Homo sapiens: one gene and its partner. The protein of the gene in region 1 purifies or fractionates together with the protein of each later gene. This does not show direct contact. Each region holds a gene or a part of one and is shown on either strand. Other genes may lie near its edges.

Evidence for each region. Proteins that work in one complex are often made in the same cells at the same time.
Region 2: the proteins of C4BPB (region 1) and DCTN4 purify together in Homo sapiens (affinity purification with mass spectrometry; 3 studies listed by BioGRID and IntAct, with this or other methods). This does not show direct contact.

What each region holds. Positions count from the first base shown.
Region 1 is NC_000001.11:207,091,860-207,095,359, forward strand, and holds part of C4BPB (C4b-binding protein beta chain isoform 1 precursor), read left to right. Parts: intron 1-3,431; coding exon of another isoform or gene 3,432-3,500. UniProt on the Homo sapiens protein: Controls the classical pathway of complement activation. It binds as a cofactor to C3b/C4b inactivator (C3bINA), which then hydrolyzes the complement fragment C4b.
Region 2 is NC_000005.10:150,714,018-150,717,517, reverse strand, and holds part of DCTN4 (dynactin subunit 4), read left to right. Parts: intron 1-1,855; coding exon 1,856-1,953; intron 1,954-3,500. UniProt on the Homo sapiens protein: Part of the dynactin complex that activates the molecular motor dynein for ultra-processive transport along microtubules.

The DNA of each region.
Region 1 (3,500 bases):
GATTAGTAGTCTAAACTTAGACATTTGCCACATCCCTGGGATGCTTTTCTCTTTTTTTGTATCAGAGACAGGCTTAAGATCTAGCAGACAGCCATGAAACAAGTGGAGCTCACAGAACCAAATCTCACCTCAAGAGAATACATTCCATTGCAATGAACAGCATCCAAAGCACACATTTTTCCTTCTCAGATAGGGGTCCTGTCCTACTAGGTGTAATGTAGGGTAGTTTGGAGCATCGACTATTTTATTTCTTAATTTCAAGACAGTGACTTTGTTTGAAAAGTAAACACAAAACGGGAAAAAGATCATAACTCATCTATTGCAAAATTATCTACAAGAGGCTAAAGACCCTCTTTCTATCACTACAATTCATATCTCTCAGAGTTAGTAAATTGGGTGTGTTTATTTCATGACTTTTTCTTATGTTTATACAGACATTTAAAACAAACACACACAAATAAAATATTTAAATTAAATAAGCATTAAATGCCATTTTGTGTGTATGTATATATATAAATATACCTATAGAAAAGGGACTTGCTATACATATTTTTAAATTGCTTTTTTTCATGTAACTATATACATGGCCACTTTCCTACACCAGTCCATGTAGCTCTATTGCCCGCTATTTAATAACTGCATATGTGTATGTCATAATTTATTATATGGCTCCCATATTATTTTAATATTTTTTATATTTGGAACAATGCTGAAATGAATATTTTATACACACACATATTCTTATGTCTACGTTGTTATTTCTTTCTTTCTTTTTTTTTTTTTTTTGAGATGGAGTCTTACTCTATTGCCCAGGCTGGAGTGCAGTGGTGTGATCTCGGCTCACTGCAACCTCTGCTGCCCAGGTTCTAGCGATTCTGCTGCCTCAGCCTCCCGAGTAGCTGGGTTACAGGTGCCTGCCACCACGCCCAGCTAATTTTTGTATTTTTAGTAGAGACGGGGTTTCACCATCTTGGCCAGACTGGTCTTGAACTCCTGATCTCGTGATCCACCCACCTCGGCCTCCTAAAGTGCTGGGATTACAGGCGTGAGCCACCGCACCAGGCTACTACATTGCTATTTCTATAGGATAGATTCCTAAAATGATTGCTGGATCACAGGATGCTATTATTTGCAGAATATACTTCAAATATCCAAGAAAGTCTACTAAAATATTTAATATATACTTGGACACAAAATAAATATTGAAAAAAATCAATGTTTTCATTTTCTATTAATAATTGTTAGTTGAATTTGAAATGTAAAAATAATTCGATTCACAAGATCTATATGAAAATTTACTGAAAGATATAAAATAAGACTTGAATGAAAGAAAAGACATGCATGATCCTGGATGGGCAGACTTACTATTACAGTGCAATGCCTCCCAGGATTTTAAATTCAAAAATATGAAAAAAACATTAATTAAAGAATCTCATCCAGTAGGATACACATCTAACATTGTAAATATTTTTGGGAAAATGATGAATGATGTATACATTTGACTGGATCAAAGGGAAAGGAATACTTGCCGTATTAGATAGTAAAAAATACTACAAAGTTACTATGAGCACAATATGGCAAACTGTAGGTACTACAAATTATATATCATTAAAATAGCAAAGTATAGGTACATATAAGTAGAACAGATTAAGTCAGGAGGAAAAGTCTATTCAATAGTGATGGAATAATTATCTATTTGGAAGAAGACAAAGTTAGGGCTCTAGCTCACACCATATTCATAATACATTCCAAATGGATTTTAAATATATAACTATAGAAAGCAAAATTATTAAATCATTAAAAGAAAACATGAGATAATATATTTATTACATTGGGATGGGGAAAGCCTTCCTAAGCAGTTTCATAAAACTCAGGAAGTCATAAAGGAAGAAAATGGGCAGATTTAATTAAATTTTTAAAAGAAAAACTTCTACATACTAAAAGACATCATATTGAATAAAGTATTTGCAACATATTTGATGGTTAAAGAGTTAATGTTTTTAATAAACAAAGATCCCCTAGAGATCAGTAAGGAAAAAAACAACCCAATAGAAAATAAGCAGTTGGGTAAGGACAGGCAATTCCAAAATAATGGCCCTAAACAGCACTTCTATCTCCTGATTATATGAAAGGATATTGAACATTACAAATGATTATAGAACTGGAAATTAAAATTAGATATACATCTTTTACTGATCAGATTAGCAAAAAATGAAAAGATGGATTTAATTTAATACTATTCATGACCTGAGGAAATAGCCATTTACGTCAGTGAGAGTGTAAAGTGCTATCACTATTTGGATGTATTTTGGCAGTAGCTACTAAAATAATAAAAGCCAGGCGTGGCAGTGCATACCTGCAGTCCCAGCTACTTGGGAAGCTAAGGCAGGAGGATAGCTTGAGTCCAGAAATTTGAGGCCAGCCTAGACAACACAGTGAGGCCTGTCTCTAAAAAAAAAAAAATGAAAAAGAAATAATAAAGACAGGCAGTTTAAGAGCACAAACTATATATGCTCTTACATGAGGGAATTTGGGGTTATTTAAAACTTGCATACATACTATTATATATACAGTTAAATTACATGCATATAATAGCATTTTATGTCATTAGCTTGACACAAGTTTAAAGTATTTCCTTATTTCTTCCAAACATTTTCTGGTTTACTCTCTTTTAATTCAGTAGTTTCTATCCTAGCTCTTAACCACAGGATCCCTGTCTTTTTATGTCACTTCATTATCTAAATCTAGGATGAGCTCCCTAGGTTTCTGAATAAACCAGATTCTTTCTGTTTATTCTGTTTACCACATCATCTCCTTCCGTTCAAAATTGTACTCATAAAAGTTACCAGAACTCTGGTGGACTGGAATCCCCCAAACAACTCCTGGAAATTCTTCTTGCTTTCCTCTATTCAGCCTTTGAGCTCAGTCTCTGAGCTTTAAAAAATTACAGTGTATTAACTGCATAAGTAATATTAATACACCTTTGTTGTAGAAAAATATAGAAAATAAAAGACGAAACCAATTACATACAAGCCATCTAAGGATAAGGGCATTAAGTATTTTGGCATATAACTTTCCATACTTTTTTCCTGTGCTTATGTATGTGTAACCATGATTTACAAAAATAATATTATACATGCTCTTTCATCATCTGCTGTTTTTACTCAACCATTTGTTTAGAAGATTTTTATGTTTCAGTAAATATACACCCACATAATCATTGTTAGCCACTATTTTTGATCGACATGTTTAGTGTCCTGTGGTCTCAGAGCTGACTGGGACCTTAGAGATGATATTATTTAACCTGCTTATCTGATAATATTAGGAAGGAAGCCAAGAGGAGCAAAATGGCTTTAGTGCTACATAGCTAGTGGAAGAGCCAGTATCAAGACTCACAACTCCTAACACGTCATCCTGCTTTCTTTCCACAGTTCCACAGACTCGTCCTCTTCCCTTCCAGCCATGTTCTCCCCTATTTCTTTTTCTTTTGAGACAGAGTC
Region 2 (3,500 bases), on another chromosome or scaffold:
CTAGCACTTTGGGAGGCCAAGGTGAGTGGATCATCTAAGGTCAGGAGTTCAAGACCAGCCTGGCCAACATGGTGAAACCCGTCTCTACTAAAATACAAAAATTAGCCGGGCATGATGGCAGATGCCTGTAATCTCAGCTACTGGGGAGGCTGAGATGGGAGAATCACTTGAACCCGGGAGACAGTGATTGCAGTGAGCTGAGATCGCGCCACTGCACTCCAGCCTGGGCGGCTGAGGTGAGACTCCATCTCAAAAAACAAAATAACTAAATGTTAAAGTAGGTGATTTTGACTCAGTGTGAGTTGAATGGATGTAATATGGCCTCTCTTTATATTTTGCTACTTCTAGTACTTGAAATTTTAGAACAAGAGCCTTTCTCTATAGATCATCTATTACTAATTCATAATTCAGCATGATATTTATAATAGAAATGGTTTAAAAAGATGCCTATATCTTTAGTTCTTATTCAAATAATATTAGAGAATTTCTGTCCTCTTTTTTTTTTTCTTCTGCTTTTTAATGATTTCACTTACTAGCATCACCTCCAAAGAGAGATAACACTTATTTCACTTATTTGGTCCTTGTTGCTTTTTTTTTTTTGAGACGGAATCTCACTCGGTCGCCAGGCTGGAGTGCAGTGGCGCAGTCTCGGCTCACTGCACTCTCCGCCTCCCAGTTTCAAGCGATTCCCCTACCTCAGCCTCCCAAGTAGCTGGGATTACAGGCGCCTGCCACCACGCCCGGCTAATTTTTTGCAGTTTTAGTAGAGACGGGGTTTCACCCTGTTGGCCAGGATGGTCTCAATCGCTTGACCTTGTGATCCACCTTCCTCGGGCTCCCAAAGTGCTGAGATTACAGATCTGAGCCACTGTGCCCTGACGTTCCTTTTTTTATTAACACTAATAAGCAGCTCCAGTTAAGACAGACAGAAATAAGTACCTGATGCATAAGCACAGCATATCTTTATAAAGCTCTCTTTATACCTCCCCTCCCACATTTGTATCTATAATTAGAAATTTGATCAACACTGTTAACTGTTAACCTCTGATAGAGCAAAGTTGAGGCCTAATTACAACATAAGTCTGAAGAATGCTAATTGTTTTCCATGACCATAATCACCCAGTATCTCATGTAAGTTTATGTATCAGGTACCAGGAATCAGCTGGTACCATGTCAAAAAACATTGTGTTGGAACCAGTGTTTCTCCTTTGTGTTGTTCTTAATGATGGACTGTTTCAGATGTATCAAAAAAAAATGAGGAATAATATGGCAAGTACCCATTTCTCCCCATCCCCTTAAGAAATTAAACATTAGGGCTAGGCGCGGTGGCTCACGCCTGTAATCCCAACAGTTTGGGAGGCCGAGGCAAGTGGATCATGAGGGCAGGAGTTCGAAACCAGCTTGGCCAATATGGTGAAACCCCGTCTCTACTAAAACTGCAAAAAATTAGCCAGGCATGGTGGTGGGCACCTGTAGTCCTAGCTACTCATGAGGCTGAGTCAGGAGAATCGCTTGAACCCAGGAGGCAGAGGTTGCAGTGAGCCGAGATCATGCCATTTGCACTCTAGCCTGGGCGACAGAGTGAGACTCCATCTCAAAAAAATAAATAATAAAATAAAACATTAAAGACACAATTGAAGCCCCCATGTTCTCCCCAGTTCCTCATTGCAGACCCCATGAAGTAAGTACTAACTTAGCTTTCTCTTAAAACCTTTGTTCTTATAAACTCCATAGAAGTAGTATATGTTTCCTGAAACTTGCTGTGTGCTTCCATTTGTCTAAATCAATGTCGTACTTTGCTATATTCTGTCACACTGGTCCCTTCTCAGGCAGGCCTCTCTGTGTTGCTCTCCAGGTGGTGGTGCCTCCCAAAGAGCTCGTTTTAGCTGGCAAGGATGCAGCAGCAGAGTACGATGAGTTGGCAGAACCTCAAGACTTTCAGGACGATCCTGAGTGAGTGATCTTTTTGTGATCCCCATACAACAAATGGCTGATAATAGAATGCCCACTTATATCCAGTTTTCTTGTCTGGATTTTTTAAAATAACTTTTTTCTTCCTGTTTCTAAAAATAATTATTGTAGAAAATTGGGGAAATATATGTAAGACCATGAAGAAGAAAATAAAATTATCCCACCACCAGAGATAAACACCATTAGCATTTTGGCATTTGTCCTTCCAAATATTTCTCACCTCATTGGGATCATTCTATAAATACAGTTTTTTAGCCTTTTTCACTTGAATATATTTTCCCATGTTAATAAAGAAATTTTTAATTATATGATTTTAATGGTTGTGGACAGGATACAATACTCTGTCCCTAGAGATTGATCATCGGGTTTGTTCCCCACCCCCACCCCCTTGGAGGAATTAATAGATTTTACTCTCTCATATCTAATAACTGAAAAGAACCAAACCTTCCAGTAACTGGGGACTGTGACCATCAGAGAATTCAGTCTGTAGACTGAATGTTTTCAATGATTCGAACAGAGGATTTAATATAAATAATTGTTCACTTGTGTAACTTAAAAAGTGAAAAAGAACACTGAAGTAGCAATTTTATGCTACTTCATGGGCATAAAATTTCAAAGATAGCTATTTGATGAGCCAGCTACCACCCCTTAGGTGGAGGGAACAAAGGGAAATAGTTAGAATTATTAAAATTTAGAACTTAAACAAAGAGCTCCATGTAGCTGAAACTCAGGCCTCCAGTGAGCTGAAGGGGAACACTGCTTGCGTGGTCCTGGCATCTCGTGATGGCAAAGGAGGGGTGGCATGATTATACAAGAATTGGAAAACTTCAACTGCTTACTGCCACTTCCTCCTGGGTAAAGAAGCATTGCTGGGCCGGGCATGGTGGCTTACCCCTGTATTCTCAACACTTTGGGAGGCTGAGGCAGGAGGATTGCTTCACAGGAGTTTGAAACCAGCCTAGGAATAGAGTTAAGACTCCGTCTCTACAAAAAAATTTTAAAAATAGCCAGGTGTAGCAGCGCATGCTTGTAGTCCCAGCTACTCAGGATACCAGGGTGGGAGAATCAGTTGAGCCCGGTAGGCTGAGGCTGCAGTCAGCTGTGATTGTGACTGTACTCCAGCCTGGGCAACAGAGTGATACCCTGTCTCAAAAAAAAAAAGACATTTTTGGAGTGATGGCCACAGGGAACAGGGACCACAAGCAAACAGGAATCTCTAAAGGAAGAGCAAGACCCTTCCTCCTCCAGACTTCTAGTCTCCCTTTAGAGCCCGCTGCTGACAGAACCTGACAAAGAGCCATCCGATCCAGCAGATACAGTCCAAGCAGAATCCTGTGTCACAAAGCAAAATTGAGAGAGGTGCGCTTGGAGCTGAAAAATAATAGCTTAGTAAACTGGCACAGGGAACATTCACAGTCTTTGTTTTGTTTTTAGAGAAGGAGTCTCTGTCGCCCAGGCTGGAGTGCAATGGCGTGATCTCCTGCTCACTGCAACCTCCACCTCCCGAGTTCAAGCAGTTCTCCTGCCTC